Homo sapiens: one gene and its partners. The protein of the gene in region 7 purifies or fractionates together with the protein of the main gene of each other region. This does not show direct contact. Each region holds a gene or a part of one and is shown on either strand. Other genes may lie near its edges.

What was found.
Region 1: the proteins of RPL14 (region 7) and RRP8 purify together in Homo sapiens (affinity purification with mass spectrometry; 4 studies listed by BioGRID and IntAct, with this or other methods). This does not show direct contact.
Region 2: the proteins of RPL14 (region 7) and CTCF purify together in Homo sapiens (affinity purification with mass spectrometry; 5 studies listed by BioGRID and IntAct, with this or other methods). This does not show direct contact.
Region 3: the proteins of RPL14 (region 7) and FTSJ3 purify together in Homo sapiens (affinity purification with mass spectrometry; 4 studies listed by BioGRID and IntAct, with this or other methods). This does not show direct contact.
Region 4: the proteins of RPL14 (region 7) and FYTTD1 purify together in Homo sapiens (affinity purification with mass spectrometry; 3 studies listed by BioGRID and IntAct, with this or other methods). This does not show direct contact.
Region 5: the proteins of RPL14 (region 7) and STAU1 purify together in Homo sapiens (affinity purification with mass spectrometry; 6 studies listed by BioGRID and IntAct, with this or other methods). This does not show direct contact.
Region 6: the proteins of RPL14 (region 7) and MYBBP1A purify together in Homo sapiens (affinity purification with mass spectrometry; 3 studies listed by BioGRID and IntAct, with this or other methods). This does not show direct contact.

Annotation. Positions count from the first base shown.
Region 1 is NC_000011.10:6,597,055-6,601,014, reverse strand, and holds part of RRP8 (ribosomal RNA-processing protein 8), read left to right. Parts: coding exon 1-89; intron 90-239; coding exon 240-346; intron 347-432; coding exon 433-529; intron 530-749; coding exon 750-869; 3' UTR 870-3,960.
Region 2 is NC_000016.10:67,610,692-67,615,129, forward strand, and holds part of CTCF (transcriptional repressor CTCF), read left to right. Parts: intron 1-132; 5' UTR 133-141; coding exon 142-922; intron 923-1,259; coding exon 1,260-1,430; intron 1,431-4,438.
Region 3 is NC_000017.11:63,818,933-63,822,736, reverse strand, and holds the end of FTSJ3 (pre-rRNA 2'-O-ribose RNA methyltransferase FTSJ3), read left to right. Parts: coding exon of another isoform or gene 1-64; exon of another isoform or gene 65-148; intron 149-568; coding exon 569-753; intron 754-893; coding exon 894-1,014; intron 1,015-1,093; coding exon 1,094-1,383; intron 1,384-1,621; coding exon 1,622-1,707; intron 1,708-1,798; coding exon 1,799-1,898; intron 1,899-2,298; coding exon 2,299-2,482; intron 2,483-2,563; coding exon 2,564-2,658; intron 2,659-2,742; coding exon 2,743-2,935; 3' UTR 2,936-3,304; downstream 3,305-3,804.
Region 4 is NC_000003.12:197,769,821-197,774,258, reverse strand, and holds part of FYTTD1 (UAP56-interacting factor), read right to left. Parts: intron 4,128-4,438; coding exon 4,015-4,127; intron 857-4,014; coding exon 760-856; intron 111-759; coding exon 49-110; intron 1-48. UniProt on the Homo sapiens protein: Required for mRNA export from the nucleus to the cytoplasm. Acts as an adapter that uses the DDX39B/UAP56-NFX1 pathway to ensure efficient mRNA export and delivering to the nuclear pore.
Region 5 is NC_000020.11:49,181,495-49,185,932, reverse strand, and holds part of STAU1 (double-stranded RNA-binding protein Staufen homolog 1), read left to right. Parts: intron 1-4,438. UniProt on the Homo sapiens protein: Binds double-stranded RNA (regardless of the sequence) and tubulin.
Region 6 is NC_000017.11:4,552,535-4,557,636, reverse strand, and holds the start of MYBBP1A (myb-binding protein 1A), read left to right. Parts: upstream 1-2,252; 5' UTR 2,253-2,312; coding exon 2,313-2,510; intron 2,511-2,680; coding exon 2,681-2,776; intron 2,777-3,358; coding exon 3,359-3,442; intron 3,443-3,543; coding exon 3,544-3,618; intron 3,619-3,719; coding exon 3,720-3,827; intron 3,828-5,010; coding exon 5,011-5,102. UniProt on the Homo sapiens protein: May activate or repress transcription via interactions with sequence specific DNA-binding proteins. Repression may be mediated at least in part by histone deacetylase activity (HDAC activity).
Region 7 is NC_000003.12:40,460,060-40,464,497, forward strand, and holds part of RPL14 (large ribosomal subunit protein eL14), read left to right. Parts: intron 1-1,347; coding exon 1,348-1,447; intron 1,448-1,548; coding exon 1,549-1,602; intron 1,603-1,879; coding exon 1,880-2,173; 3' UTR 2,174-4,438. UniProt on the Homo sapiens protein: Component of the large ribosomal subunit. The ribosome is a large ribonucleoprotein complex responsible for the synthesis of proteins in the cell.

The DNA of each region.
Region 1 (3,960 bases), on a different chromosome or scaffold from region 7:
GCCGCTTGGCTTCAAGTATCCGGAACCCTGTGCATTGCTTTGACTTGGCTTCTCTGGACCCTAGGGTCACTGTGTGTGACATGGCCCAGGTAAACCCCTATGTTATCTGGCTTGTGCTCTAGGGCCAACCTCCGTATGCTAATCTCTAACCCTTCCTTCCCCTTTCCCATCCTGGTATCTCAGTGCTGGCTTTCTTCTTCTGCACTGTGTGCCTTATACAACACTCTCACTCTCCACAGGTTCCTCTGGAGGATGAGTCTGTGGATGTGGCTGTGTTTTGCCTTTCACTGATGGGAACCAACATCAGGGACTTCCTAGAGGAGGCAAATAGAGTACTGAAGCCAGGGTAAGAGCCCCCAGGACACAGATGCATGTATGTATGTGTGCATGCATGAGTCTGTGCACTTACACAGAACTTTCTGTCTTTCTCAGGGGTCTCCTGAAAGTGGCTGAGGTCAGCAGCCGCTTTGAGGATGTTCGAACCTTTCTGCGGGCTGTGACCAAGCTAGGCTTCAAGATTGTCTCCAAGGTGAGGGCCCCAAGACATCTGTACCTGTTTTTGTCTCATGTGGCCCTATTCAGGGTACTGGTGTTCAGGAAGGAGGCTTTAGGCACAGGAACAGACATTTTGCTCCCCAACGGAAGTGGGAGCCCTGGGAAGCTTTGTGAGCAGAGGCAGTACATAGAGGGAGGTGTTTTAAGGAGTTGGGATGAGGATTTGGTTCTCACTGGGTCTTTTCTGCCCCTAGGACCTGACCAACAGCCATTTCTTCTTGTTTGATTTCCAAAAGACTGGGCCCCCTCTGGTAGGGCCCAAGGCTCAGCTTTCAGGCCTGCAGCTTCAGCCATGTCTCTACAAGCGCAGGTGACCTCTGGATCTTCCTTGAAAGGGGAGGCAGATCTCAAACTCCAGGCTCAGAACTGTGAAGACTGTTTCCAGCCTGGCTGTGAGCCAAGACCTGGTTCCTGGTGGACCCTGAGGACAAAGTGTGATAAAACCTCTGGCTCAGACTTGCTCTACTGAAGGCTTCTTGGTTATAAGATGCATAAAGTCACTGGGGCTAGCTAAACAATAAAGAGTTTATTGTGAGAACATGGGGATATCTGTCTCATGACACTTCAGGTGTTATGAAAACTAGATGGTTTGGAATTCAAGGCATCTTTAGGTTTTGCTCTTCTTTCCAACTAAGAAGCCACATGGCCTTCCTGTCCTGCCATCTCCACTCTGCTGTCATCTGATCTGTCTACAGATCAGCTTCCTCTGCTCACCCATAGCTTCTGCTCCTTCAGCTTCAGTTTGCCCAGGCCTTCAAGGTTGCAGACAGGCAGCTGTTGCTGTTTGACTCTGAGGCAACTGGTTGTCCACCAACATCTTGGCTCAAGACATCAGTCTGAGCCACCAACTTGAGACTGTTTGGTTGTCCCCATACCGAGCATTTCTAGTGGTTTATCTTTCCCCTCTCCCCTCATCTCCATTTTTGGAACCATATAGCATCAAGCCACTCCCAACACCTATTGTCCTGTGGGACTTTGGGATGTATATAGCTGAGAGCACAGATTTTGGAATCAGGTAGACCTGGATTTAATTCTTGGCCTGCTACCCAGAGGCACTTAAAGTCATTTAATCTCTGTATATCACATTCCTCATTTGGAAAATGGTAGAATTTTTGTCTTGCAGGGTGGTTGTGTGGGTTAACTGGAGAAATCTGTAGCCAGGGCTGGGAACATAGGAGGTGCTCAGTAAACTAGCTATGACTATTATGTGTTGTAAGCCTTATTGTTTTTTGAAGATCTTCCCTAGGCTGGTTGGAGGCTGAGGGGTAAAGAATGGATTTGTTGACTAAGGAAGCCTCTGGGAGAGGCTAGACCTTTCAACAGGCCTGCTTCATAGGCTATTTAATGACTTTTAATAGATTCTGAGCTTCTGTCCTTGGAGGGGTAGTGAGGGAGCTGGGTCTCTGTTCATAAACAACTTGTTGATGCCATGTGGGCTTGGGGGCATTGGGCTGTTCATTGGCGGAAGAGTCTGTCCACTATCTCTGCCTTGCAGTGGACTCAGATCAGCATGTCCTGGGAAAGCTATAGGCAAGGTGCTGAGGGAAGGTGAGTTTGAATGATAGATTCTAGGCCTCCCCCAAAAGGTATCTGCCATGTGCCCAGGTATAAAGATATGGCCTCTTGTACTTGTTTCCAGGAATACCTGACAGTACCCATTGGGAGATCATAGGTTCTATGCCCTGAGCCAGTTGGATGCCTCTAATAAGGGGATGGAGGTTTTGAAACAGGCTGTAGTCCAGAGGGCATGTTTGGAGGCTGGGCTGTGAATCATTAGGCAGGCACTACACAGTGCCTCTACACGTACTGTTCTTTCTGCTGGATATTCATCGGACTGGCAGTTTGCTCATCTTTCCGAACAGCCTAGTTGTTTCCTATTCTACTCCCAAAGCAAAATCAGTTCTTCATCTGTACTCTCAAAGTACTATGTGAAGAGTGCTACTTCAGCTTCTAAATATTGCATTGTGATTCCTTTGTGCATTTGGCTGCTGTTTTCTCAAGCCATGTTTATCTTTGTATTCCCGGAGCTTGTCATTTGAGATATAGCCAGTGTACTTATTCACCTAGGGAGAGATAAGGAATGACAGGGTCCAGTTGAGTGGGATAGATGAGAACAGGGGTGTTATAGAAACCCAGGTACTAGGGCACAAGATGAGGGCACTGTTGACTAGTCATGATGGAAGAAGTAGGCAGACAGGAGAACTTCATTAGGTAGAATTGGTGGGATGTTGAGGTTGGTAAGAGAGGAATCTGAAGTAAGTTCCAGGTTGCTCAACTGTGGGTAGGCTGGTGATGCCATTCAAAGTGTTGGATTTTAGGAAGTGGGACATGCGTGAAATCTGTGCTGGGGGTCTGGGAATCAGCAGCCTAGAGGTGGTAATTAAAGTCAGAATAGATGAGATATTCAGGGTAAGATAATGAGAAGAGAAAATGGCTCAGAATAGAACTGAGGAGCATGTCATGGATGGGTAAAGGAAAATGAAGCAGTGAAGGTGATGGAAGAGGAGAAGGTTCACCCAGAGATGTAGGAGTAAAACCAGGAGAGTTAATTTTTTTTTTTTTTTTTTTTTAAGACAGAGTCTTGCTCTGTGGCCCAGGCTGGAATGCGGTGGCGTGATCTCAGGTCACTGAAACCTCTGCCTGCTGGTTCAAGCACTTCTCCTGCCTCAGACTCCCGAGTAGCTGGGAATACAGGCACATGCCACCACGCCCAGCTAATTTTTGTATTTTTAGTAGTGACGGGGTTTCACCATGTTGGCCAGGCTGGTCTCGAACTCCTGACCTCGAGTGATCGGCCTGCCTCGGCCTCCCAAAGTGCTGGGATTACAGGCATGAGCCACTGTGCCCAGCCAGTGTTTTTTTTTTTTTTTTTTTTATGGGAGGATGGGCAGGTTGTTAGCTGTCGAGTGCTATTGAGATGAGAGAGAACTCAGAATGCAGTGGGGTAAGGATTGCTGAGTAATGTGGAGGGCCTGTTTGAGGTAAATGGCAGTGGTAAGAGGTTGCTCCATTATGAAAGCCCTCTTCCAGAGTTCCTGATAGGGCCCCAGAAGTTCATTTCTGATTGCTTTGATTTTTTTTCAGGGGAGCAGGAAGCCAGTTTATCATTTGAGAGTGAGAATAGGGGAGAGGAAATATCTTCCAGGCCCACAGTGCATAGAAATACCCAGTCAGGGCAAAATGATTTATCTGTTTACCTCTCCTCATCACTTGGGCCCAGAGCAATCAGCAGTGATTAGGTAGAGAGGAGCCGAGCAGAGGGAAGAGCATACCAATCACTCCTCCCTTTCCCAGTGCAGGCTCCTAGACTTAGCTGGGGCAGAGCTGGGAGAGGAAAAAGGGATTTAAAACTGCAACAGGTGCAGATTATTGTTACACAGGATTAGACATTCTAATTAATTGAGA
Region 2 (4,438 bases), on a different chromosome or scaffold from region 7:
TTGTGTCTTTTTTAATATTAACAACCATTGATGCCTAATTCATTCACCAAAGGGTCTTTTTGTTTTAAAATGTATATTTTTATTTAGACATGCTTTGCTTTAAATAACAATCTGTGTTCTCCCTTAATAAAGGCAGGGGAAATGGAAGGTGATGCAGTCGAAGCCATTGTGGAGGAGTCCGAAACTTTTATTAAAGGAAAGGAGAGAAAGACTTACCAGAGACGCCGGGAAGGGGGCCAGGAAGAAGATGCCTGCCACTTACCCCAGAACCAGACGGATGGGGGTGAGGTGGTCCAGGATGTCAACAGCAGTGTACAGATGGTGATGATGGAACAGCTGGACCCCACCCTTCTTCAGATGAAGACTGAAGTAATGGAGGGCACAGTGGCTCCAGAAGCAGAGGCTGCTGTGGACGATACCCAGATTATAACTTTACAGGTTGTAAATATGGAGGAACAGCCCATAAACATAGGAGAACTTCAGCTTGTTCAAGTACCTGTTCCTGTGACTGTACCTGTTGCTACCACTTCAGTAGAAGAACTTCAGGGGGCTTATGAAAATGAAGTGTCTAAAGAGGGCCTTGCGGAAAGTGAACCCATGATATGCCACACCCTACCTTTGCCTGAAGGGTTTCAGGTGGTTAAAGTGGGGGCCAATGGAGAGGTGGAGACACTAGAACAAGGGGAACTTCCACCCCAGGAAGATCCTAGTTGGCAAAAAGACCCAGACTATCAGCCACCAGCCAAAAAAACAAAGAAAACCAAAAAGAGCAAACTGCGTTATACAGAGGAGGGCAAAGATGTAGATGTGTCTGTCTACGATTTTGAGGAAGAACAGCAGGAGGGTCTGCTATCAGAGGTTAATGCAGAGAAAGTGGTTGGTAATATGAAGCCTCCAAAGCCAACAAAAATTAAAAAGAAAGGTAAAACGAGTTTATCCATAGTGGTTTCATAAAACCATTTTGGGATAAGCATACAACACAGTGCATATGCAAGTTGTTTTATATTAACCGTATTTGTAAAAGGTCGTTATGTGGGTACCGTTCTTTAAAACCAGTCTAAAATAAGTTTTTTCCAGATTGAATGCTCTTTTTTTAATCCCAAAGAAGAAGGAAATGTATTAGTGACATGAGATAATTATGACTTATATTGGGTTTTGTTATTAAAAGCTAATCAAATATATTTGTAGAAATTTAAGATTAGGATTAATCTTAACACTTTGAAACTCTGCAGCAAGTAAGTGTTTTATTTTGCACATAGGTGTAAAGAAGACATTCCAGTGTGAGCTTTGCAGTTACACGTGTCCACGGCGTTCAAATTTGGATCGTCACATGAAAAGCCACACTGATGAGAGACCACACAAGTGCCATCTCTGTGGCAGGGCATTCAGAACAGTCACCCTCCTGAGGAATCACCTTAACACACACACAGGTGCTGGATAAGAATGTTGGGGGCTACAACAGCAAATGCTCAGACTTCGCTTTTTAGTATTCATTCAAGCTGACTCCAGCGGGAATTTAAAGGAAGTTTTTATTATTTCTTATGATGCCCTTTTTGTAATCATGATTTTATTGTAAGCACTTGGACTTAGTTATTATAGACAAATGTAAAGAAAATTTAATGAAAAATAACACCCTCTCTCTTAAAAAAAAGAAGTCTCAGGCAATAGATGCCTGGTACTATGAGGAAGAATGTTAGAAATAGAAGTGAAATCCCAGTGAAACCCTGTCTCTACTAAAAATACAAAAAATTAGCTGGGTGTGGTGGTGGGCGCCTGTAGTCCCAGCTACTCGGGAGGCTGAGGCAGGAGAATGGCGTGAACCCGGGAGGTGGAGCTTGCAGTTAGCCGAGATCCCACCACTGCACTCCAGCCTGGGCGACAGTGCGAGTCTCCGTCTAAAAAAAAAGAAAAGAAAAGAAATAGAAGTGAAATCCTACCTTTATTTAAAAAAAAAAAAGTGGCCGGGTACAGTGGCTCACGCCTGTAATCCTAACACTCTGGGAGGCTGAGGTGGGCAGATCACTTGAGATTAGAAGTTGGAGACCAGCCTGGCCAACGTGACAAAATCACATCCATCTGTACTAGAAATACATAAATTAGCCAGGTGTGGTGGCGGGTGCCTGTAATCCCAGCTACTCAGGAGGCTCAGGCAGGAGAATCGCTTGAAACCTGGGAGGCAGACACTGCAATGAGCTGAGATAGTGCTACTGCACTCCAGCCTGGGCGACAGAGTGAGACTCCATCTCAAAAACAAACCTTAACATTTTTTGTTTCTGGTTGTTTCACGTCAAGGAAGATAATTCATAATTTCAGAATGGAAAAGCTAAGGCACCATTCTGATAATTCAAACATTTATTTGAGCATCCTACTTACTTTAGTGTTCAGATATTCTGATATTAGCTTCATGTTGGCTGTGGCCAGGTTCCCTGAGGTCTCTAAAGTAGAGGGACTCTGTGCACTAAACCTCTCTTTAAGCTTTCCTGAGCTATTTGTTATCCCAGTGTAGGAAGTTGGTTGCAAGTCTTCTCACATGGTTTTTCATGCAGAATAACTTCATTTCATATGACAACTCTTGTTTTTGATTTTTAGGTTTTTAAAAATTTCTAATGACAACCCTTGTTTTAGATTTGTTGTGCTGGTTGTCAGATGACCATGATCAAGTGGGTGTTAATCATAAACAGTATGCTGCACATGGGCACATTCTTCACTAATGTGACTTACTTTTAAACATCTCCCTAATTTCTACTCAGACACTTGATAATATGTTTTATTTGATACTTTGAAGACACTAGGATGGGGCATATGACTAAATAAAAGTAACTGGGTAATCCCAGCACTTTGGAAATCCAATGGGGGGTAGATGACCTGAGGCCAGGAGTTCTAGACCAGCCCGGCCAACATGGCAAAACCGCCTCTGTACTGAAAATACAAAAAATCAGCTGGGTGTAGTGGCACACGCCTGTAAACCCAGCTACTTGGGTGGCTGAGGCAGGAGAATCACTTGAATGCGGGAGACAGAGGTTGCAGTAAGCCAAGATTGTGCCACCGTACTCCAACCTAAGTGACAGAGCAAGACTCTGCCTCACCAAAATAAATAAATAAATAAATAAATGGCCCCATAACAGGACTTCCCAAGATGGGTGTGCCTTGGTGTGGGCATTCTCTATCTGGTCTTCAGCTTTGAAAGTAAGAGGTACAGTCTATCTGGTTACTCAGCAGATTTGGCAAGACTGATTCATACCAACAAAACCCATAAGAGCAGATGCATACACCAAGAGTATCAGTTTATGGTGAGGAGTATACCTTTTCATGTTCCAGATGCAGTTGCATTGCATTCTAGGGGGCGCCTTTGCCTCTGTTACGATGCTGTAGCAGCCGGGCGCCGTAGCTCTCGCCTGTAATCCCATCACTTTGGGAGGCCGAGGTGGGTGGATCACCTGAGGTCAGGAGTTCAAGACCAGCCTGGCTAACATGACGAAACCTCGTCTCTACTAAAAATATAAAAATTAGCCGGGCGTGGTGACGCATGCCTGTAGTCCCAGCTACTCGGAAGGCTGAGGCAGGAGAATTGCTTAAATCCAGGAAGCAGAAATTGCAGTGAGTGGAGATCGCACCATTGCACTCCAGCCTGGGCGACAGAGTGAGACTCCATCTCAAAAAAAAAAAAAAAAAAAAAAGATGTTGTAGCAATTGAAAGCTAACTTGGTGAGGATGAGCCTTGATGGCTGGGCATGGTGGCTCACACCTGTAATCCCTGCACCTAGGGAGGCTGAGGCGGGTGGATCACTTGAGGTCAGGGGTTTGAGACCAGTCTGGCCAACATGATGAAACCTCATCTCCACTAAAAATACAAAAATTAGCCAGGTGGCCGGGTGTGGTGGCTTACGCCTGTAATCCCAGCACTTTGGCACTTTGGGAGGCTGACGCGGGCAGATCACCTGAGGTCAGGAGTTCAAGACTAGCCTGACCAACATGGGGAAATCCTGTCTCTATTAAAAATACAAAATTAGCCGGGTGTGGTGGCACATGCCTGTAATCCCAACTACTCGGGAGGCTGAGGCAGGAGAATCACTTAAACCCAGGAGGCGGAGGTTGCGGTGAGCTGAGATCGTGCCATTGCACTCCAGCCTGGGCAACAAGAGCAAAACTCGGTCTCAAGAAAAAGCCAGGCATGGTGGCCCATGCCTGTAATCCCAGCACTTCGGGAGGCTGAAGCAGGCGGATCACAAGGGCAGGAGATCGAGACCATCCTGGCCAACATGGTGAAACCCCGTCTCTACTGAAAATAGAAAAAAAAAATGTTAGCCAGGTGTGGTGGCATGTACCTGTAGTCCCAGCTACTCAGGAGGCTGAGGCAAGAGAATTACTTCAACCTGGAAGGTAGAGGTTGCAGTGAGCCAAAATCATGCTACTGCACTACAACCTGGGCGACAGAGCA
Region 3 (3,804 bases), on a different chromosome or scaffold from region 7:
CTCACTGCAGCCTCAAACTCCTGGCATCAAGCAATCCTCCTGCCTCAGCCTCCCAAAATGCTGAGATTACAGGTGTGAGCCACCATACCCAGCCTAGTATCTTTACCATGAGGAAAATAAAAGGTTCTGACAATTGGTTTAAGTGGAACAGTTTTGTTGGATGTATGTTGGCTGGGCCCCTTTTATTCAGTGGAAACAAACTGTGTAGACGGTATTCTCAGGAGATGATTGAGATGCTGTCTGAGAATAATTTTTAAAGGAAAACCAGTGTTGTAGAATATGTTAAGATTTGGTGCTATGTGGGCTGTAGGTACCTTCCTTAAGACCTATTTGTGATACCACTGAGACAAGACAGCTGAGTGGGATAGATCAGTAACCCAGCCTAGAACGGGATGTTGTAAACAGGCCATTCACTACCCTGGATCTGAGCTTTCCCATCTGTGAAAGGATAATGGATTTGCCAGTGTTCTTTCTAGTGTTGCTGAGCATAGACTGAGGTGAGGGACACAGAAAAAAAAACAGTATATTTCCTTTTAAATAGTTTACCTTTGTTTCTGTTACACTTCAGTTATTAGAGGAAGTAACACAAGGGGATATGAGTGCAGCAGACACATTTCTGTCCGATCTGCCAAGGGATGATATCTATGTGTCAGATGTTGAGGACGACGGTGATGACACATCTCTGGATAGTGACCTGGATCCAGAGGAGCTGGCAGGAGTCAGGGGACATCAGGGTCTAAGGGACCAAAAGCGGTAAGGGGCACGTGTGCACCAAAGGGAATGCTGCCACTCTGAGGAAGTGTTAGGGTGGGTACTACCAGAGCCTGAGTAGGGCAGCAAGGGCTCCAGGCAATCTGGGTCTCTGAGCCCCCTACTTTCCTTTGGGTCTACAGTATGCGACTTACTGAAGTGCAAGATGATAAAGAGGAGGAGGAGGAGGAGAATCCACTGCTGGTACCACTGGAGGAAAAGGCAGTACTGCAGGAAGAACAAGCCAACCTGTGGTTCTCAAAGGTAAGGAGAGGCCGGGGGCAAGACTGCGGGGAGATGAGTCTTCCTTGGGAGAAGGGCAGCTGATGTTCTCCTATCACAGGGCAGCTTTGCTGGGATCGAGGACGATGCCGATGAGGCCCTGGAGATCAGTCAGGCCCAGCTGTTATTTGAGAACCGGCGGAAGGGACGGCAGCAGCAGCAGAAGCAGCAGCTGCCACAGACACCCCCTTCCTGTTTGAAGACTGAGATAATGTCTCCCCTGTACCAAGATGAAGCCCCTAAGGGAACAGAGGCTTCTTCGGGGACAGAAGCTGCCACTGGCCTTGAAGGGGAAGAAAAGGATGGCATCTCAGACAGTGATAGCAGTACTAGCAGTGAGGAAGAAGAGAGGTGAGTAGTTGCAGCTGAGAGAAGGGATGGAAAGGAAGCGGTGGCTTGAACCATTTCTCTAAATTGGGGGTTCTTAATCTTGGCTGCACATGGGGAGGGTTAAAAATACTGTACTGACGATCCTGATTTAACTGGTCTGGGGTACAGCCTGCATGGCAGGATTTTTGCAAATTCCGTGGGAGTGCGGTCTGAGTAGTACAGAGTGGTGGAATCACTCAGAGTCCTCCCCTCTTCACAGCTGGGAACCCCTCCGTGGTAAGAAGCGAAGCCGTGGGCCTAAGTCAGATGATGACGGGTTTGAGATAGTGCCTATTGAGGACCCAGGTGAGAGCTCTGTATGCAGTGGAATGAGAAAAGACCACTGGAAGTCTCAGTATTGGGAATTGAGCTTTGACCTTTCTCCTTCCCTCTCTAGCGAAACATCGGATACTGGACCCCGAAGGCCTTGCTCTAGGTGCTGTTATTGCCTCTTCCAAAAAGGCCAAGAGAGACCTCATAGATAACTCCTTCAACCGGTAAAGGGGCCATAAACTCATCAAGAGTGACCCAGGGTCTGGTGGGTAAATGGGTAATTTTTTGTTTTTGAGATGGAGTCTCGCTCTGTTGCCCAGGCTGGAGTGCAATGGCACGATCTTGGCTCACTGCAGCCTGATTCTCCTTGAATCGCTTGAGTCAGCCTTCTGAGTAGCTGGGATTACAGGTGCCAACCACCACGCCCAGCTAATTTTTGTATTTTTAGTAGAGATGGGGTTTCACCATGTTGGCCAGGCTGGTCAAACTCCTGACCTCAGGTGATCTGCCCACCTCAGCCTCCCAAAGTGCAGGGATTACAGGCGTGAGCCACCGTGCCCAGTCTGGTAATTTCTTTAGAAAGCCTGGAATGTTGGATATTAGACAGATGTCCTTTCCACTCAGGTACACATTTAATGAGGATGAGGGGGAGCTTCCGGAGTGGTTTGTGCAAGAGGAAAAGCAGCACCGGATACGACAGTTGCCTGTTGGTAAGAAGGAGGTGGAGCATTACCGGAAACGCTGGCGGGAAATCAATGCACGTCCCATCAAGAAGGTGGCTGAGGCTAAGGCTAGAAAGAAAAGGAGGGTAAGTGATGGGGCCTCCAGAGATTGGGTGGGGTGGGGGTGGGGGGATGGGGAAGAGGTCACCTGACAGGTTCCTTTGCAGATGCTGAAGAGGCTGGAGCAGACCAGGAAGAAGGCAGAAGCCGTGGTGAACACAGTGGACATCTCAGAACGAGAGAAAGTGGCACAGCTGCGAAGGTAATGGGAGGACACCACAAAGGTACACAGGGCTAAAAGTGCAGCAGAAAGCAAGCCTCTAACCTCTTCTCTTCCCCCCTGTAGTCTCTACAAGAAGGCTGGGCTTGGCAAGGAGAAACGCCATGTCACCTACGTTGTAGCCAAAAAAGGTGTGGGCCGCAAAGTGCGCCGGCCAGCTGGAGTCAGAGGTCATTTCAAGGTGGTGGACTCAAGGATGAAGAAGGACCAAAGAGCACAGCAACGTAAGGAACAAAAGAAAAAACACAAACGGAAGTAAGCAGAGCTGCCAGGCTCCCAGGAGAGCATGGGGACTAGGAGGAAGGGTGTGGCATGGCTCAGTCTGGCCCCCTTGATTACCGGCCTAGCCCCTGCTCACATCACAGCTGTCTGAAGAACAGTGAGGTGGAGTGCCTAGAACTCCCGTGGTGGTCCTGAGCAGAGAGGAGGATGTCCTCCTGCCTGCCTGAAGGTCTCCCATGAAAACACTGCTGAACTGTGTTGACACTCATGACCCTTTTTTTAAACCGTTAAAGGGAAGTTCGGTGTTGGAGCGATACTCAATGTAGTCAGTCTACACCTGGACGTGTGGGCCACTTAAGCCCTCCCCACCCCCATCCTATTCCTGAATAAAACCAGGATAATGGAAGAGTTGTCTTTTCTGACAGTTTTAATAAGCACTTCCCTATCTGTCCCTACACTGTGTGCGGCACTATTCTTAATATGTACCAATTCATAGACAGAAATGACAAACGATCCACAGGTCCCGGTAGTAAAACATTTACTAGAGAGCAAGCAGAAAGGAATGCACATCTTAAAGAAACCTTCACAAAGTCACAAAAGTCAAAGTTTGTATATTTCTTTTCCTTTTTATAAACGATAAACAAAAATCATCAAAATCATTTCAGCAAAAGACTTTTCTATCATTGGGGCAAGTTAAAAAAAATACAATGAGATAGAAGACACTTTAAAAGCTGTTGTTGGGTTTCTTGTTTAATTTTAAATTTAGCAATACCATCTCAAACCTGGAGCAATCCTGGAACAGTTACCAGGATCACCTTTTCCCTTCAATCCTTGTGGCTTCTGGGAATCTTCAGAGCCTGGGTCTGAAAGGTGTTTCCTACATGTCTCAGGGCTGGATGCAAACCT
Region 4 (4,438 bases), about 160 Mb from region 7:
ATTCTGGGAGTTTTGAAATAACATCTTAAAAAACAAATGGAAACTTACTGACGAGTTCTCTTTGCTACTACATCGTCTAGCAGTTGTTCTGTATTCAACTGGGCCTGCACCTGAAGGGAAAAAAAAAGCAGTAGGTACCACAGAAAGCAGAGGATTTGAATCCAAAGAGCGATCCTGCTCTGGAACTTCCTAACCCAGTGGTGCGTGTACATGAGTGCAGCGGAGGTGCCTGCGCTATTCTACAACTTCCTAACCCAGTGGGGCGTGTGCGTGAGTGCAGCGGAGGGGCCCGCGCTATTCTAGAAATTCCTAACCCAGTGGGGCGTGTGCGTGAGTGCTGCGGAGGGGCCCGCGCTATTCTAGAACTTCCTAACCCAGTGGGGCGTGTGCGTGAGTGCAGCGGAGGGGCCCGTGCTATTCTAGAACTTCCTAACCCAGTGGGGTGTGTGCGTGAGTGCAGCAGAGGGGCCCACGCTATTCTGGCAACAGTTCCCTGTTGGAATTCCTACATGAGAACGAGTGGCAAATACAGGTTTATTCCCAAATAACGAGTTAAATTCTTATAAGACATTGCTATTGAGGGTAAGAAAAGATGGGAAATAAAAAACATACAACAGGAAGAACTAATCTACTACCACGTGCCTCACATCCTGAACCCAATGCTGCCTATGACTGAGGCTTACTAAAGGTGGCTGCTCAGGATCCTCTTTGGGAAAAAACAAACAAACAAACAAAAACACTGCCAAAGTTTTTAAATACCTTCAGGCCTCTTCTGAAAAGAAAAGTTGCCTGACGAGTATCTTTCTGATGATTTAATTTATTTCCACTCCTGGTAAAATTAGCTGGAATGTTATTTCTGCAACAAAAACACATAGGCCATGCTAAGCCATTTAACTACTTTCAAACATCTTGAGGAAAAATAAGCAAAAATAGTTAAATTCATAGGCTGCAAACATGAGGTGCAAGAAACAAACAACTCTGAATTATTTGCTTATTAACATGAAGCTACTGAGATTTGATTAACAAATACCTCCCTCCGAAGCATAGCACATAACCACGTGTTAATTTCAAACCACTTTATCTTCCAAATATTCAATCCTCTAATATCCCATATATCTTCTGAAGACATTAATAATCACATTTTTAGTGCTATTTCCTATATTTGGTGAAAACATAACTTTACAATTTATAGGATTAGTACAAAGAAAAACCACACATAGGCCAAACTGAAGACGTAAAATAAACTGAAGACCAAAAATAAAGAGAAAGGTTTGAAAAATAACATCTCCTCCTCCAGCTTTCTCTTCCTTCCTCACTCAGAAACCATTATGTATTAACATAAACCATAGAGGCCAGGCATTATGGCTCACACCTGTAATCCCAGCACTTTGGGAGGTTGAGGTGAGTGGATCACTTGAGGTCAGGAGTTTGAGACCAGCCTGGGTAACATGGTAAAACCCCGTCTCTACTAAAAACACAAAAATTAGCCAGCCTTGGTGGCACACGCCTGTAGTCCCAGCTACTCAGGAGGCTGAAGCATGAGAATTGCTTCAATCAGGGAAGCAGAGGTTGCTGTGGGCCGAGATCACGCCACTGCACTCCAGCCCAGCGACACAGACTTCATCTCAAAAAATATACAAACCACAGAAAAACTTATACTCTTCTATTTCTTGTTCTTTCATGCACAGAACAATGCTCTTAATTATGACTGTCACCAATTCTTTTTTTTAATTTTAAGTTCTGAGACACGTGCTGAACGTGCAAGTTTCTTATGTAGCTATACATGTGCCATGGTGGTTTGCGGCACCTAATTTCTTTTGTTTTCTATAGGAAGTTAGTGAAGTACGAAAAATTAAAATTTCATATTTATCTATGAAATATTCAATCCTCTAACATTCCATGTCTTCAACTGATGTATTGATAAATATGAAACACTATATAAACGAGTGTTTAACAGATTCCCTAGTCTTACCTCCAATCTTTCAGAGATTCAAGTTCAAAACTGCCCTAGCTAACCCAATTAACATGTAAGTCTCACGTAAATGATGGGTTCTTATTTGAGAAGGTCCCCTTTCACAAAAGGTACTATCAAGTGATTCCCAAAAGATGATGGTTAAAACTGCAATTCCAGCCATTCCATTTTTTGTTTTTTTATTTTTATTTTTTTGAGACAGAGTCTCACTGTCACCCAGGCTGGAGTGCAGTGGCACCATCTTGACTCACTGCAACTTCCGCCCCCCAGGTTTAAGCGATTCTCCTGCCTCAGCCTCCCAAATAGCTGGAACTACAGGCATGAACCACCACGTCCAGCTAATTTTTGTATTTTTAGTAGAGATGGGGTTTCACCATGTTGGCCAGGCTGGTCTCGAACTCCTGGCCTCAGGTGATCCACACGCAGCGGCCTCCCAAAGTGCTGGGATTGCTGGCATGCACCGGTCACCACATCGGGCTAATTTTTGCATTTTTTTTTTTTTTTTTTTTTGAGACGGAGTCTCGCTCTGTCGCCCAGGCTGGAGTGCAGTGGCGGGATCTCGGCTCACTGCAAGCTCCGCCTCCCGGGTTCACGCCATTCTCCTGCCTCAGCCTCCCAAGTAGCTGGGACTACAGGCGCCCGCCACCACGCCCGGCTAATTTTTTGTATTTTTAGTAGAGACGGGGTTTCACCGTTTTTAGCCGGGATGGTCTCGATCTCCTGACCTCGTGATCCGCCCGCCTCGGCCTCCCAAAGTGCTGGGATTACAGGCGTGAGCCACCGCACCCGGCCTAATTTTTGCATTTTCAGTAGAGATGGGGTTTTGCCACATAACTCCTGACCTCAGGTGATCTGCCTGCTTTAGCCCCCCAAAGTGCTGGGAATACAGGCATGAGCCACTGTGCCCAGCCACTGCATTTTTTAAAAACCTCATTCCAGGTTTTTTTTGCTGACTTATCTTCCACGAAAGATAAATAAATAATACTTGAAACTGAATAAGGAAACTTCACACCTCATCAACTTCATCTACTTTGTCCTTACAGAGAACAGAATGCCATAACAACAGATCATAATTTTTCTTTTCTTTCTTTTTCAGAGATGGGGGTCTCACTATGTTGCCCAGCAGGTTAGCCCTGAATCCTGGGCTCATGTGATCCTCCTGCCTCAGCCTCGTAAGTAGCTGGGACCACAGGCACATGCCACTGCACCCAGCTCACAGGCCATAATTTTTGGTTTTTATTATTCAATTTAGTATAAAAATAATTTCAGTTTAACAAGTGTTCATGAAGAATTCTCCCTTTCTAGTTTGATTTTTCCACAAATAACATACATTGTGATTCAGTGTTCTAGTAAGAGCCATCCAGACTGAGTAACAAATTGAGATTTCAGAATTCTCAATTTTGAATAATTCCCACTAAGATGTTAAGAGTTCTACCAGGGCTGGGCACAGGGGCGCATGCCCGTAATCCCAGCACTTTAGGAGGCTGAGGTGGGAGGATCACTTGAGGCCAGGAATTGAGACCAGCCTGGACAACATGGTGAGACCCTGTCTCTATTAAAAAAAAAAAAAAATTAGCAGGGCATGGTGGCATGTATCTGCAGTCCCAGCTACTCAGGAGGCTGATGTGGGAGGATCGCTTGAGCCCAGGGCAGGCCAAGGCTCCAGGGAGCAGTGATGGCGCCACTGCACTCCAGCCTCAGCAACAGATCGAGAAGCCCTGTCTCAAAAAACAGGGAGAAAAAAAAGAGAGTTCTACTAAAGTGATCAGCTTTTGCAATTTTATTCCATATGTCAAAGAGGTAAAGAAGCAGAGTGATGCTTTTTAAAAAGCTTATATCGGTTAACTTCATCAGTAAGAATTCATCTAATAAACAAGCTATTACTGGATACATCCATGTGGATGTTCAGATAGACATCCCAAATATCTGTCTTGAAAATGACCAGATAACTAAAAAAATCACTGCAAATCCATTCTTCACACCACTTAATGCAGGAAGTGTTTTTAATGCAAAATAACACATTATTATTTTTGAGCACTTACTTTCTGCTTAGCTGGCTAGGTCTCTTGAGAACTGCTACTGGTTTCCTCTGCCCTTCATTTTGTCTCAGAAGGTTTGCCTTCCTTTTTAACACTGGAAAATATTGTTCTATATTCTATCAGAAGGCAAGAAATTATGTTAATCAAATTGCATTTTTCTATATACTCTACTACAATAAACATTTCAGATGCAGAATGAACAAGGATTGACAACTGCTTGAATGTGCAGATAAGGGAGACGGAGAAACAAACAACTTGAAACTGTACAGTCTACATGACTGAAAAGATGAAAACCCCACATTATATTTAAAATATGTGAGGTACTCGGGGGACCCACAGGTGATGGGGAATCGTGGCTCTGGAACTCAAGAGAATCAGAGAGCCAGAGATATTTAAAATATGTGAGGTGCTCAGGGGACCCACAGGT
Region 5 (4,438 bases), on a different chromosome or scaffold from region 7:
GAGGTGGAGGTTGCCTGGGCGACAGAGAGAGACTCTCTCCAAAAAAACAAAACAAAAAAAACACATAAGCAAACAACTATACAAGCAGTATAAAGCATGTCTAATACTGCCATATCACAATGGCATATTTCAATAGGGAAATGGTATTTTAAATACCATTTTTTAAAAACCTTTTATTCTGGAAAACATGCGAAACTCGAATAGTATGGAGAACCCCATGTGTTAGTCACTCACTTAGCTTTGACAATTATTAACTCATAGCCAAGGTCGGTTTTGTTTCATGTTGTATCCCCCCACACAAACTAGATTATTTTGAAACAAATCTTAAACATTGTGTCACAACATTAGCGATTTTGACTTTTACCAGATTGCCCCAGATTAAGGTCACAAAATTTACTTTTAGTAGAATAATAGTTCTCATTTTTGTTTGTTGGGCTTCCCTTCTCTGTTTATACATGATTTCTGTACAGCAGAAAAGAAGAAGAAAATTAACTCTTGATCCAATGCCTTCAGCTCCTCAAAATCAAAATACAACCTTGCTGCTTTATTGTGTACAAAAGCAAAAATTCTTGAGCTATTAATGACTATAATTGAAAAGCGAACAAATACAGATTTCCCCAGTCCTGTTTTGGCAGAGACCTGCCTTTTAACCCACTTTAATAGAGATAACTTTGTGTCAAAGTTAAACTACAGTTAATAATTCATAATGAAAACTTAAAATGTTTCTTTACAGTAGTTGTGTAAAGATACTGCTGTTACCTTAGGTTAAGAATTAAGCAAAAGATAATCTTCTAACATAGAATTGTTTTCCAAAGTGCCCCCGTCTGCCCTATTTCCAAATAACAAATTTAGCAAATATGAATGAAACCTTAATTTTTGTGAATAGTATGAAATCACAGCATAAGTGTTCACGTTTTTCTTTCTTGTGTCTAAAGGATCTCTCTTACAATGGAAGTTGACAGGAATATTATAAATATTATAAATGTCTTTGTTGCATAACTTTCAAATTTCTGGTCGTGAATAGTTTTCAGCTTTTAGGTCTGTTATTTGAGTTTTGTAGGTGTACTTTGAGCTTGATCAGGTACAGTGGAAATGTTACATGTTATGTTTTAGTTATGACTACCTGGAAGATGGGGAAAGATACACCTCTTAAAATTGATTTAGGAAAGAAACGCCAATTTAGTATCTGGGAAAGGACACAACACATTTTTAAAAATGTGTAGTGCTTCCCATTAAGCTTAACGTAAAACTTTTAAGCATTGAGAATTGTTACCATAAATATAGTTTCTTGAGAATAAGTTGCTCTCTTTTAGGTTTCAGCCAGAAAGTCCATGTATATACAGATTACAGCAGGTCCTTGAATAATGTTGTTTCAAGATAATGTTGAGAAAAAAAACTGTCTGTGGAGTTTACACGTTCTCCCTATCCCTGCATGGGTTTTCTCTGGGTACTCTTGATTTCCTCCCACATCCCAAAGCTGTGCACGTGAGGTTCACTGGTGTGTGGAGCTGTGTGTGTAAGTGTGAGTGCTTTCTGCAGTGGATGTCCTGTCCAGGACTGGTTCCGGCCTTGCACCCTAAGCTGCTGAGATAGGCTCCAGCCACCCCAACCCTGAACTGGAATAAGTGGTAAAAAAAAAAATTTTTTTTTTTGAGATGGAGTTTAGCTCTTGTCACCCAGGCTGCAGTGCAATGGTGCAGTCTCGGCTTACTGCAACCCCATGCCTGTAATCCCAGCACTTTTGGAGGCTGAGGTGGGCAGATCACCTGAGGTCAGGAGTTGGAGACCAGCCTGGCCAGCATGGCGAAACCCTGTCTCTACTAAAAATAAAAAAAATTAGCCGGGCTGGGTGGCGGGCACCTGTAATCCCAGCTACTCAGGAGGCTGAGGCAGGAGAGTTGCTTGAACCTGGGAAGCAGAGGTTGCAGTGAGCGGTTATCGTGCCATTGCACTCCAGCCGGGGCAACAAGAGCAAAAGTACTTCTCAAAAAAAAAAAAAAGGCATGTATACTTCACATTTATTTCAGTGTTTAATATTCGAAGTGTTTGGTCTTTATTTAAAAGTTTGGTGATATTTTTCTGATGAGAAATATGCCCTAGAACCTAACTCTTGTTTGTATCAATAAGCGTGTGTTAGTCGGAAGTCTCAGTTTCCAAGAACCTACCCCTTATGTTAAGAGAGGATTTACTGTATTTTAAGTTTAGAAATGGCCATGACTCATGGAACTCTCCTCCATCCCCATTCTAAAGTCCAGATCATTGATATCATTCTGGGTGTTATCAAAATGGATACTGCTTCATCCAGTCTCTCTCCCCAATACCACAAGGTAGTCTCAGTTTGTGGGGCAACTTTCTTTGAGCCTTTTTACTGGATTGAGTAAGAGTGTAATTCAGTATAAAGATGAAACTTTCATGAAAAGGGTATCTTTTTGTGGGATTCCACAAGTCAATCCCAGAGTTTGTCGCCCAGGCTGGTCTTGAACTCCTGAGCTCAAGTCATCTTCCCACCTCAGCCTCCTTAGTAGCTGGGATTATAGGCAGAGGCCTTGTTTTCATGAGCCTCTAAATTGGATCTTCTTATTTGATGTGATACCCAGTGACACAGAATTGTTCAATTTGAGGAAATATAAATTCCTCCCCTCTCAAATAAGAGCTTTGGAGTTGCTTTTCTCTCAGAATGGGATTTTAGAGCTTTCAAAAATGTTTAGAGAATTTTATGACAGATTTGTTTCACACTAGACCTATAACAGGTTATTTTACATTGACTTCTGGTGATGGAGACATTTGTGGTTGAAATGCTTCTCGTGTAATTTTCTACATGAGCTTTTCTTTAAATAAAACTTCACCAGAGTCAAGGCTGTATACCATTTGTGCTGTTCCAAAAAATATAAATTGCCAGTTATCAGTTGAACTATGAGAGGACATGTTAGTTGCTATGGTTATTTACCCCCACCATTTTATTATGAAAAATTTCAAACATATAACAAAGTTTATGAAGTTTTATTGTACATCTCTTTAGATACCATCTACTTTCTATTTTTGCCTCCCTGTTTCATGGTGCTGAACACCGTCTACTATTTTTTTTTTTTTTTTTGAGACGGAGTCTGGCTCTGTTACCCAGGCTGGAGTGCAGTGGTGTGATCTCGGCTCACTGCAAGCTCCACCTCCTGGGTTCATGCCATTCTCCTGCCTCAGCCTCTCGAGTAGCTGGGACTACAGGTGCCCGCCACCATGCCTGGCTAATTTTTTTGTGTTTTTAGTAGAGATGGGGTTTCACCGTGTTAGCTAGAATGGTCTCGATCTCCTGACCTTGTGATCCGCCCACCTCGGCCTCCCGAAGTGCTGGGATTACAGGCGTGAGCCACTGTGCCCGGCATACCTTCTGCTCTTTGTCATGAACATTTTACCATACAGTATTATGAAGCTTGAATAATGTTGGCCAAATCCATTGTTCTCACCTGCTAAGGAGATAATAGGATTATAAATATATAGCTGTGTTGATCTTATCAAATGCCACGGGATGGATGGGCTTGGATATCTGTCTTGTTGACAGCTTAATGCTCTGAACTAGAAAACCTTACTGCAGAGAAAAGTAATATTTTTAAAGTGGTAAAATGGGAATTACTGCAAATAGCTTAATTTGTTTTTTAAGTGTTTACATTCCCATACTGGTGAATAAGGTTGATGTAACAGTGATTTATGTCACCAGATAAATGGAAGTAGAGAAAAATTTCTGCAGGCTGTTAATTGCTGTATATTTTCTGGGATTACATATGTTTATTTGTTAAAGAAGTAGACTCAGGGAACTCCCTCAAAGTATATTTACTGGAAGCAAAAGTGGAAAAATCTATTTGAGAAAGTGTTTGCTTTCGATTAAAAATTAGTCTTCTGAATATCAAATCTGTAACCCATCTGGCATCTGTTTAATCTGGAATCTAATTTGGGAAAGAAGTGTGATGACTATGTGGGTTTATAACAGTAATGGAAGCAAAACTGGCCATTTTATTATGATAGAAATTTTGTGTCATGTCTCCCAGACAATAAAGGCTAAGAAAATCTATTTAAATACATTGGGGTCTTTTCCCCTGAATGAACATGATTGCTGAGGGTTAAACCTTCATTAGATTGCCTCTGCTTTTTTTTTTTTTTTTTTTTTTTTTTTTTTTGTTGAGATAGTCTTGCTCTGTTGCCCAGGCTGGAATGCAGAGGTATCATCTCGGCTCACTGCAACCTCCACCTCCTGGGTTCAAGCAATTCTCCTGCCTTAGCCTCCCGAGTAGCTGAGACTACAATTGAGCACCACCACGCCCGGCTAATTTTTTGTATTTTTAGCAGAGATGGGGTTTTGCCATGTTGCCTAGGCTGGTCTCGAACTCCTGAGCTCAGGCAATCCGCCTGCCTTAGCCTCGCAAAGTGATAGGATTACAGGCTTGAGCCA
Region 6 (5,102 bases), on a different chromosome or scaffold from region 7:
ATAATAATAATAATAAAAAAATAGCTGGGTGCGGTGGCTCATGCCTGTAATCCCAGCACTTTGGGAGGCCAAGGCAGGTGGATCACCTGAGGCTAGGAGTTCGAGACCAGCTTGGGCAACATGGCGAAACCCCGTCTCTACTAAAAATACAAAAAATTAGCTGGGCATGGTGGCGGGCACCTGTAATCCCAGCTACTTGGGAGGCTGAGGCAGGAGAATCACTTGAACCCGAGAGGTGGAGGTTGCAGTGAACCAAGATCGCACCATTGCAACCCCACCTGGGCAACAAGAGGGAAACCCTGTCTAAAAAAAAAAAAAAAAAAAAGGATTTATTATGTGCTCACTGCTGGCTCAGGCCCCAACCTCTGGCCTTTTAAGTTACCTAGACTTGAGTTCTGGCATCCAGAGCTAACAATCATTCTTCAGATCACCCACACCGGATGGAATCTCTAGCTATTTTATCAGCTAAGAAAATCAGGGTAATAACGAAAAAGCAGTAGGGCCTGGGGCTAGCACTGAGTTCAGATCCAGCTTTCAGGAGGACAGTGGAAAGAGTGCAGAGCCTCTGCCTAGGCCCTGGGCCCCACGAAGCAGGACAGGCAGAGCCCAGGGTACTGTTGGCATCTCTGTCCTTCCCTTCAGGACACCCCTTACCTATCTGCCTCAACCAGACTGGGTACAAAATAAAGATCAAGTCTCCCGGAAACCAAGCACCATTCCTGCTTCTTGGTTAATTTTCCAACAGCTTTTGAAGCAACTGGAGTCAGGGCTTCCCTGATGGGCAGCACAGGTGACCAACAACCAGAGAGGGGAGAGCCTGGGTTGGTATCTTTCAGCTTCCCCCTGCTCCGCTCACCTCCTGCCTCCTGGGGCACCAGATGTGCAAGGTGAATGTTTTCATTTCACTTTCTAGAACAGACAGCAAAGCAGGGAAGCGGCTGAGAGGGTGAGAAGGCGCCCCAGGGGCTTGGGTACAAAGGGGTTGGAGTTGAGCGTGTGGAAATTCAAGGCGAAGGTTAGCCCTGACCTCCCCCAAGGGTTAGGTCCTCTCTGGACCACAGCCCTCTATAAACAGCTTCTCAAACCAAGAAGCGAGGGTGACCAGTAGCAGTTCCCCTCCCCTGCCATTGTAAAAGGCTTCTCTGATTTAATAGACCGTTTGATCCCACCACCTTTACCTCCCACTCCCAAGAAAATTCTTCTCCGTAATGGCACCACAATGTACCCAGTTATTTCAGTCTCAAACCTGGCATCCCCCTCATTTCCTCTCCCCCGACATCTAACTCCATCACCCACCCCACCTGCTCCACATCAGCCCAAATCTGACCTGTTCTCATTTTCCCTGGGTCCAGTCCACCACTATCTCTAAATGGTCTTCCCGTGCTTCCACCTGCGCAGACCTACAGTCCATCCCCCACACAGCAGCCAGCATCATCTTGTTAAAATGTAAATCGGATCCAGGCTTGCCCCTGCATTAAACTCACCAGTGACTTCCCATCACCCTCAGAATGAAATCCCAGCCCGGGGCCCCATGCAGCCTTGCTTCTCGCCAGCCTCAGCCCCTCCAGCCCTGGGTCTCTGTAGTTGCAAGGCTTGGGATTTCGTCCCCTTAGATCCTTGCAGGAGTACGGGGGAGGGGGGCCCTTCTTGTCACTCAGCTCTCATCCCAAATGCCACTTCCTCACAGAGGCCTTCCCTGACCAACCCCTCAAATCATTATTGGAGACCCTATTGAATAGTAATTAGCCGTGTTTTTAACGGGTGATGTATTCACGTTCCAGCACTTAAAAGCCTCCTCCTGACCCTTGCATTCCTAATTCTCTTCATAATTATGATCTTTTTAAATGCATTTGGCTCCGTGTTCCTCCACGAGAGCAGAGGCTTTGTTCCAACCGCCTAGCACGGCACGCCAGCAGGAGCCCAGTAATTGTTGAATGGCTCAATGTTCGGAGCGCAGGGGCCGCTCTGGGACGAGTCGGATCGAAGTGCTACACCTAGGTTTGTTTCCGAGATGGGCCCTTAGAAATGCCCCCCTGGGGCTCCAAAGGGGCAGATGCCACAGCCGCCAGGGCGGAGCGGGTGTGAGCAGAAGGCTGGGAAAGATGGGACGCCGCTAGGCGAGGGACTTCCGCTCAGAGCTACGGCGGAAATGCCGCTCTTTTAACTCTGGGCCGGTCTCTCTTGGTTCCCCCGCCCCTCCGGGTTCTTCCGCCTCCGAGCCGACACAAACCGGTGCGCATGCGCCGTGCCCTGACCTGGAAGCGGCTGGGGCCGGAGCACACGTGTTTCGTGTTTCGGTGAGTGTGGCGGAGATGGAGAGCCGGGATCCCGCCCAGCCGATGTCGCCTGGAGAAGCGACGCAGAGTGGCGCCCGGCCTGCCGACCGCTATGGCCTATTGAAGCACAGTCGCGAGTTCTTGGACTTCTTCTGGGACATTGCGAAGCCTGAGCAGGAGACGCGACTTGCGGCCACGGAGAAGCTGCTGGAGTATCTGCGTGGCAGGCCGAAGGTGGAGTGGCGGGGTCTGGGGCAGAGGCTGCGCATATCCCGGCAAGGAAGCGGCGGCGGGCCCAGGGAGTTGAGACTGGGGGCACGTGGTCGCGAACCTGGATGCCAGGGTGCGCGGGGGCGTGCACCTTGTTGTCACCATTGAACACGAGGGTGTGCTTGGTTCCGCAGGGGTCCGAGATGAAATATGCCCTGAAGCGTCTAATCACGGGACTCGGGGTCGGGCGAGAAACAGCCCGGCCCTGCTACAGTTTGGCCCTGGCACAGGTGAGGTGGTGCTCCTGGCAGGGTCCCAGCCATCCAGGTCAAAATGGTGGGGTATGAGGAGGGCGGGTGTGGTGTCTCAGCTGTGGCGGAGGGGCAGCCCGAGAGAGAGGTCGGGAGTGGCAGAGCAGACTGGAGGCCAACCTGAGGGAGGCCTCTTCATGAAAGTGGAGAAGGTGTGAGCAAGGCCTGGCCAGGTTTTCTATTTGGTGCTTGGGTTGCCCGGCCTCTTAGGTACACTTTCTGGGAGCAGTGAGCGCTGGGTGGGCTCCCTTAGGCCTGCAGAGGCATTCAGCTGATTGGAGTAGACCACTCTCTGAGGCGCCTTGACAAGGGGCAGAGCAATAAAGACCCAGGCCTGCAGGATCAGCCTGAGGGGAGCTCAGACCACGTGCGGAGAGAAGACCCAGTGGCTGAGCATTTCAGACTAGTAATCTAGGGGCCATAGAAGGTACATAGAAGGTGGGACTAGGGACCTGAGGCTTCTTGGGAGAAGTTGAAGGGGGAAGGGAGGTTAAGGTTTGTGAAGACGTAGTTGGGCCACTCTCCTGAACCCTCTTCCTCCTGCCACACAACTCCTGGCAGCTGTTACAGTCTTTTGAAGACCTCCCCTTGTGCAGCATCCTGCAGCAGATACAAGAAAAATATGACCTGCATCAGGTGAAGAAGGTGAGAGTGGGGCCAGGGAGGTCAGCAGCCCCAGGGGTGGGAGGCTTGGGGAATGGGGAGTTCCAGGGCCCCTCATGCCTGTGCCTGGAATCCTTTTCTAGGCAATGCTGAGACCTGCTCTCTTTGCAAACCTGTTTGGAGTGCTCGCCCTCTTTCAGTCAGGTCGGCTGGTGAAGGTAAGAGCTTTGGAGGGACTGGGGGAATGTAGGCTGGCTTGGGATGGGTGGGGGACAGTCGTGTGCCCTGCTCATACCCTCTGTCCCTCTGTGGGGACCAGGACCAGGAGGCACTGATGAAGTCGGTGAAGCTGCTGCAGGCCCTGGCCCAGTACCAAAACCACTTGCAGGAGCAGCCCCGGAAGGCCCTGGTGGACATCCTCTCCGAGGTATGAGCTCCCCAGCTGTGCGGGCCCAGGCAACACTTTGTTACAGAGACATCAAGGGGGCTCGGATGAGAATCTGGAACAGCACTGTTCCATAGAAATACAAAGATGTATAATTTGAAGCGTTTCAGTGACTTTGTTGAAAAGGTAAAAAGAAACAGGTGTCATTTAGTAACATTTAGTGACATTTGACTTTATCTGGTATATCTAAAATATTATTTCAGTGTGCATTGGTATAAAAAAGTGTTGAGATATCTTACACTCTTTTTGTCAGGTGTCTCCAAAATCCAGTGTGTATGTTACACTTAGGCACACCCCTGTTCAGATTAGCCACCTTTCAGGCGCTCAGCAGCCCTGTGTGGCTGTGGCTACCGTATTGGGCAGTGCAGCTCTGGAACTGTGCCTGGCACGTGGCAAGTATATAAAACGTTTGCCATTGTTATCCTGGTCAAGGCTGGCCCCTTGTGGGCCTCCACTGCCCTACTTGGGAAGGTAGCACCCTAGGCCCTTTTGTCACCGAAGAGAAAGGCAGGGGTAGCAGGTCTCCAGGCCAGGGCTTACTGTGCAGTCTTGACCTCAGAGCCAGAAGGACCTGAATTCGAATCCCAGCTCTCCACCTAGGGCTCCTCGTGTATGAAATGAGCTAGTACTCTGAAATACCAAAAAAAGGAATAATTAAAAGGGTAGCTTTGACCGGGCATGGTGGCTCACGCCTGTAATCCCAGAACTTTGGGAGGCCGAGGTGGGCAGATCACTTGAGGTCAGGAGTTCAAGACCAGCCTGGCCAACATGGTGAAACCCCATCTCTACTAAAAATACAAAAATTAGCTGGGTGTGATGGCGCACACCTTTAATCCCACCTGAGGCAGGAGAATTGCTTCAACCTGGGAGGCGGAGGTTGCAGTGAGCCAAGATCACACCACTATACTCAGCCTGGGTGGCAAAGTGAGACTCTGTCTTAAAAAAAAAAAATAAGGGGTGGGGGGCAGGTACCTCCAGGGGCCAGTTAGCGTCAGTGGGATGCTTGTCAAAAACCCCGCTGCCTGGGAATTTGAGTTTTGTTAGCAACTGGCCTCTGATGACTCTGATACCTCACCAGGTGGCCCCGTGTCAGGAGCAGGTAGAACAGGATCCACCAGGCTCACCCCGCAGAGGAAGTCACGATTTCTTCTCCCTCCATCCTTAGGTCTCGAAGGCCACATTGCAGGAGATCCTGCCGGAGGTCCTCAAAGCCGACTTGAATATAATACTCAGCTCCCCTGAACAGCTAGAGCTCTT
Region 7 (4,438 bases):
CAGTAGAAAATACTTGGTAACTTAGATTTTTCACTAGGTACTCTTGTAATTCTGCCTTGGATCCCTGGACACCCTGGATTTTATTTTTAGGATGTTTGGCCACAAATTGTTACTGTAAATTTTTTTTTAAAAAAAAGCCTAACAGTTAATATTAATTACCTTGTTTGTTACGAGAATGAATGGCTCGGATGTGTGCAGTGGCTCATACCTGTAATCTCAGCACTCTGGGAGGCCAAGGCAGGTAGATAACTTGAGGTCAGGAATTTGAGACCAGCCTAGCCAACCCCGTCTCCACTAAAAGTCCAAAAATTAGCCCAGTGTGGTAGTGTACTCCTGTAGCCCCAGCTATTTGGGTGGATGGAACAGAAGAATTGCTAGAACCTAGGAAGCAGAGGTCACAGTGAGCCAACGTTGCGCCAGTGCATTCTCCATCCTGGGTTACAGAGCAAGACCCTGTCTCAAAAAAAGAAAAAAAAAAAGAATGGTTTTCAACACGTCCACTGCCCGAGTGGAATTATATATAGTCAGAGGTGGGTTTTTTGTGTTTTTTTTGAGGGTTTTTTTTTTCTTTTGACACGGAGTCTCACTTTGTCACCCAGGCTAGAGTGCAGTGACGCAATCTTGACTCACTGCAACCTCAGGCTCCCAAGTAGCTGGGATTATAGGCACCTGCAACCACGCCCAGCTAATTTTTGTGTTTTTAGTAGAGATGGGGTTTCACTATGTTGGCCAACCTGGTCTTGAACTCCTGACCTCAGGTGATCCACCCATCTTGACCTCCCAAAGTGCTGGGATTACAGGTGTGAGCCACTGCGCCTGGTCAAGAGGTAGTTTTTAAATTCATAAAATGGGCTGGGCTGGGTGCAGTGGCTCATACCTGTAATCCCAGCACTTCAGGAGGCCAAGGTGGAGGGTTGCTTGAGCCCAGGAGTTGGAGACCAGCCTGGGCAACGTAGCAAGACCCTGTCTCTACAAAAAATATAAAAATTAGCTGGGTGTGCTGGTATGCACCTGTAGTCCCAGCTACTTGGGAGGCTGAGGCAGGAGGATGGCTTGAGCCTAGAAGGTTGAGGCTACAGTGAGCCATGATCATACTATTGCATTCCAGCCTGGGTGGCAAGCAAGATCCTCTCTCAAAAAAAAAAAGGGACTGGATTACAGTTTTGATTAAAATATGCTTGAAGTTAATAACCTATTCTGGCTTACTGAACACAAAAATAAGTAAAATACATAGTGTACCAGGTGTTGTGTAACAGGAAGAGTGCTTTTCAAGGAACAAAGAAAGTGTCTTTGATAATGAGTGACTTCAAAGCTGATTTCTTAATCTGTGGTCTTGGCTCGTTCTAGTGCCCACCAGAAGTATGTCCGACAAGCCTGGCAGAAGGCAGACATCAATACAAAATGGGCAGCCACACGATGGGCCAAGAAGATTGAAGCCAGAGAAAGGGTAATAACTTAGGGTCATTTGAATTCTGGTCCTTTCTTTTTTTGGAGGGTTCAAGATAGTGTGAGAGGGATAATTTTTATTTGTTGTTTTTTTTTTAACAGAAAGCCAAGATGACAGATTTTGATCGTTTTAAAGTTATGAAGGCAAAGAAAATGGTAAGATTTAAGATCTGTATTTTTGTGTAACTTAGCTTTAAATAATAAGGGAGCAGTAGCCAAATCCCATTTCAGGCTGCCAGCTTCTTGGAAGCTTTCTGTAAAAAAGGAGAATTTATCTTCATTTGTATTTCATGATGTCCCTATGGAATTGTTACCTTTCTTCAGATGTAGTTGTAGGGAAACAGACTACTTAATGCCCTTTCTAAAACCAGCATAAATTGGATTTTATTGTATGTATACACAATAAGTGCTTTCTTACATTGATAATTTTCAGAGGAACAGAATAATCAAGAATGAAGTTAAGAAGCTTCAAAAGGCAGCTCTCCTGAAAGCTTCTCCCAAAAAAGCACCTGGTACTAAGGGTACTGCTGCTGCTGCTGCTGCTGCTGCTGCTGCTAAAGTTCCAGCAAAAAAGATCACCGCCGCGAGTAAAAAGGCTCCAGCCCAGAAGGTTCCTGCCCAGAAAGCCACAGGCCAGAAAGCAGCGCCTGCTCCAAAAGCTCAGAAGGGTCAAAAAGCTCCAGCCCAGAAAGCACCTGCTCCAAAGGCATCTGGCAAGAAAGCATAAGTGGCAATCATAAAAAGTAATAAAGGTTCTTTTTGACCTGTTGACAAATGTATTTAAGCCTTTGGATTTAAAGCCTGTTGAGGCTGGAGTTAGGAGGCAGATTGATAGTAGGATTATAATAAACATTAAATAATCAGTTCCTTTTTTTTTTTTTTTTTTTTTGAGATGGAGTCTCGTTCTGTTGCTCAGGCCGGACTGCAGTGGCGCTATCTCGGCTCACTGTAAGTTCCACCTCCCGGGTTCATGCCATTCTCCTGCCTCAGCCTCCTGAGCAGCTGGGACTACAGGTGCCCGCCACCGCGCCTGGCTAATTTTTTGTATTTTTAGTAGAGACGGGGTTTCACCGTGTTAGCCAGGATGGTCTCGCTCTCCTGACCTCGTGATCCGCCCGCCTCGGCCTCCCAAAGTGCTAGGATTGCAGGCATGAGCCGCCGCGCCTGGCCTAAATAATCAGTTCTTTAATCTCACTCTCTGCCCATACTTGGATAGGTAGTGCAAAATCATTGCAGTCATAATTGATCATGTCATGAGAAATCATGATAACTTAGAACACCAAGTGACACAAGTGACATTTTTTTCTTATGGTCACCTTGGCTTCAGAACATCTTTTTTCCTTGTACAAATATGTTTGCCATAAATAGGTAAAGTGACAGCCTCTTGATGCTCAAGAGTCTAGCAGATTTATTTTATTTATTTATTTTTTTTTTTTGGAGACAGAGTCTTGCTGTGTTGCCCAGGCTGGAGTGCAGTGGTGCGATCTCAGCTCCCTCCACCTTCCGGGTTCAAGTGATTCTCCTGCCTTGGCTTCCCAGGTAGCTGGGACTACAGGCGCCCACCACCATGCCCAGCTAATTTTTTTTGTAGAGACTGGGTTTCACTATGTTGGCCAGGCTGGTTTTGAACTCCTGACCTCGTGATCCGCCTGTCTCGGCCTCCCAGAGCGGGGGATTATAGGCATGGGCCACTGCACTTGGCCTTTTTTTGTTTTTTTGAGACAGAGTCTTGATCTTATCACCCAGGCTGGAGTGCAGTGGCACGATCTTGGCTCAGCGCAACCTCTGCCTCCTGGGCTCAAGCGGTTCTCCTGCTCAGCCTTCTGAGTAGTTGGGACTATAGGTGTGTGCCACCACGTCTGGCTAGTTTTTGTATTTTTAGTGGAGATGGGGTTTCACCATGTTGGCCATGCTGGTCTCGAGCTCCTGACCTCAGGTGATACACCCGCCTTGGCCTCCCAAAGTGCTGGAATTACAGGTGTGAGCCACTGTGCCCGGCCTGCAAATTTTCTTATAAAAAGTAAACTAGGAAAATAGGGCAAGTATAAAAATTGCAGGTTGAGCATATTTCTAATCCAAAAAGCTCTAACCTCTGAAACTGAGCTATGACACTACAATTTAAAAATCCCTAGCCTACCCGCATGGTGGGTTATGGTCAAAATACAGGTACACAGCACTATTCAGTGTCCCTGAGGAAGAAATAGTTAACCTTCAGGGTACATGTATATGAAGCATAAATGAATTTCCTGTATAGACCTAGGTCCCATCCCCAAAGTGTCATGTATATGCACTTAACTCCAACATCAGAACACATCTCGTCCTAAGTGTTTCAGATAAGAGATACTTATCCTGTGTATAGTAGGTTGGACTTCTGTTTCTCTCTACCACAAGATACAGGTAATTTGGGGCAGTAAAAGATCCTGGATAGATTTAAAAATACTACAAAGCTGTACATGAAACAGGATTACTTTTTTTTTTTTTTTTGAGACAGAGCCTTACTCTTGCCCAGGCTGGAATGTAGTGGCACGATCTCAGCTCACTGCGACCTCCACCTCCCAGGTTCAAGTTGTTCTGCCTCAGCCTCCCAAGTAGCAGGGGTTAAATGCGTGTACCACCATGCCCCTCTAATATTGTATTAGAGATGGGGTTTTGCCATGTCAGCCAGACTGGTCTTGAACTCCTGACCTCAGGTGATCTGTCCGCCTTGGCCTCCCAAAGTGCTGGGATTACAGGCGTGAGCCACCGCTTCTGGCCAGGAATACATTTTAAATAAATTTGTTTCCTAACCAAAAGCTAGCTTCAGGCGTCACTGGGGTAAAGGAAAAAGCACATTGATTTGCTTGATAATAGGCAAGTGGTATGGTGTAATAAGGAAAATATGGATGATTTCGGATTACCTGTTCTACTCTGGGAGGTAGAGAATTGTCTAGAGAAAGTGGCATCTATACCTAAAATAAGAAGAAGGTGGTGTAAGGGGAAGAATGACACGAGA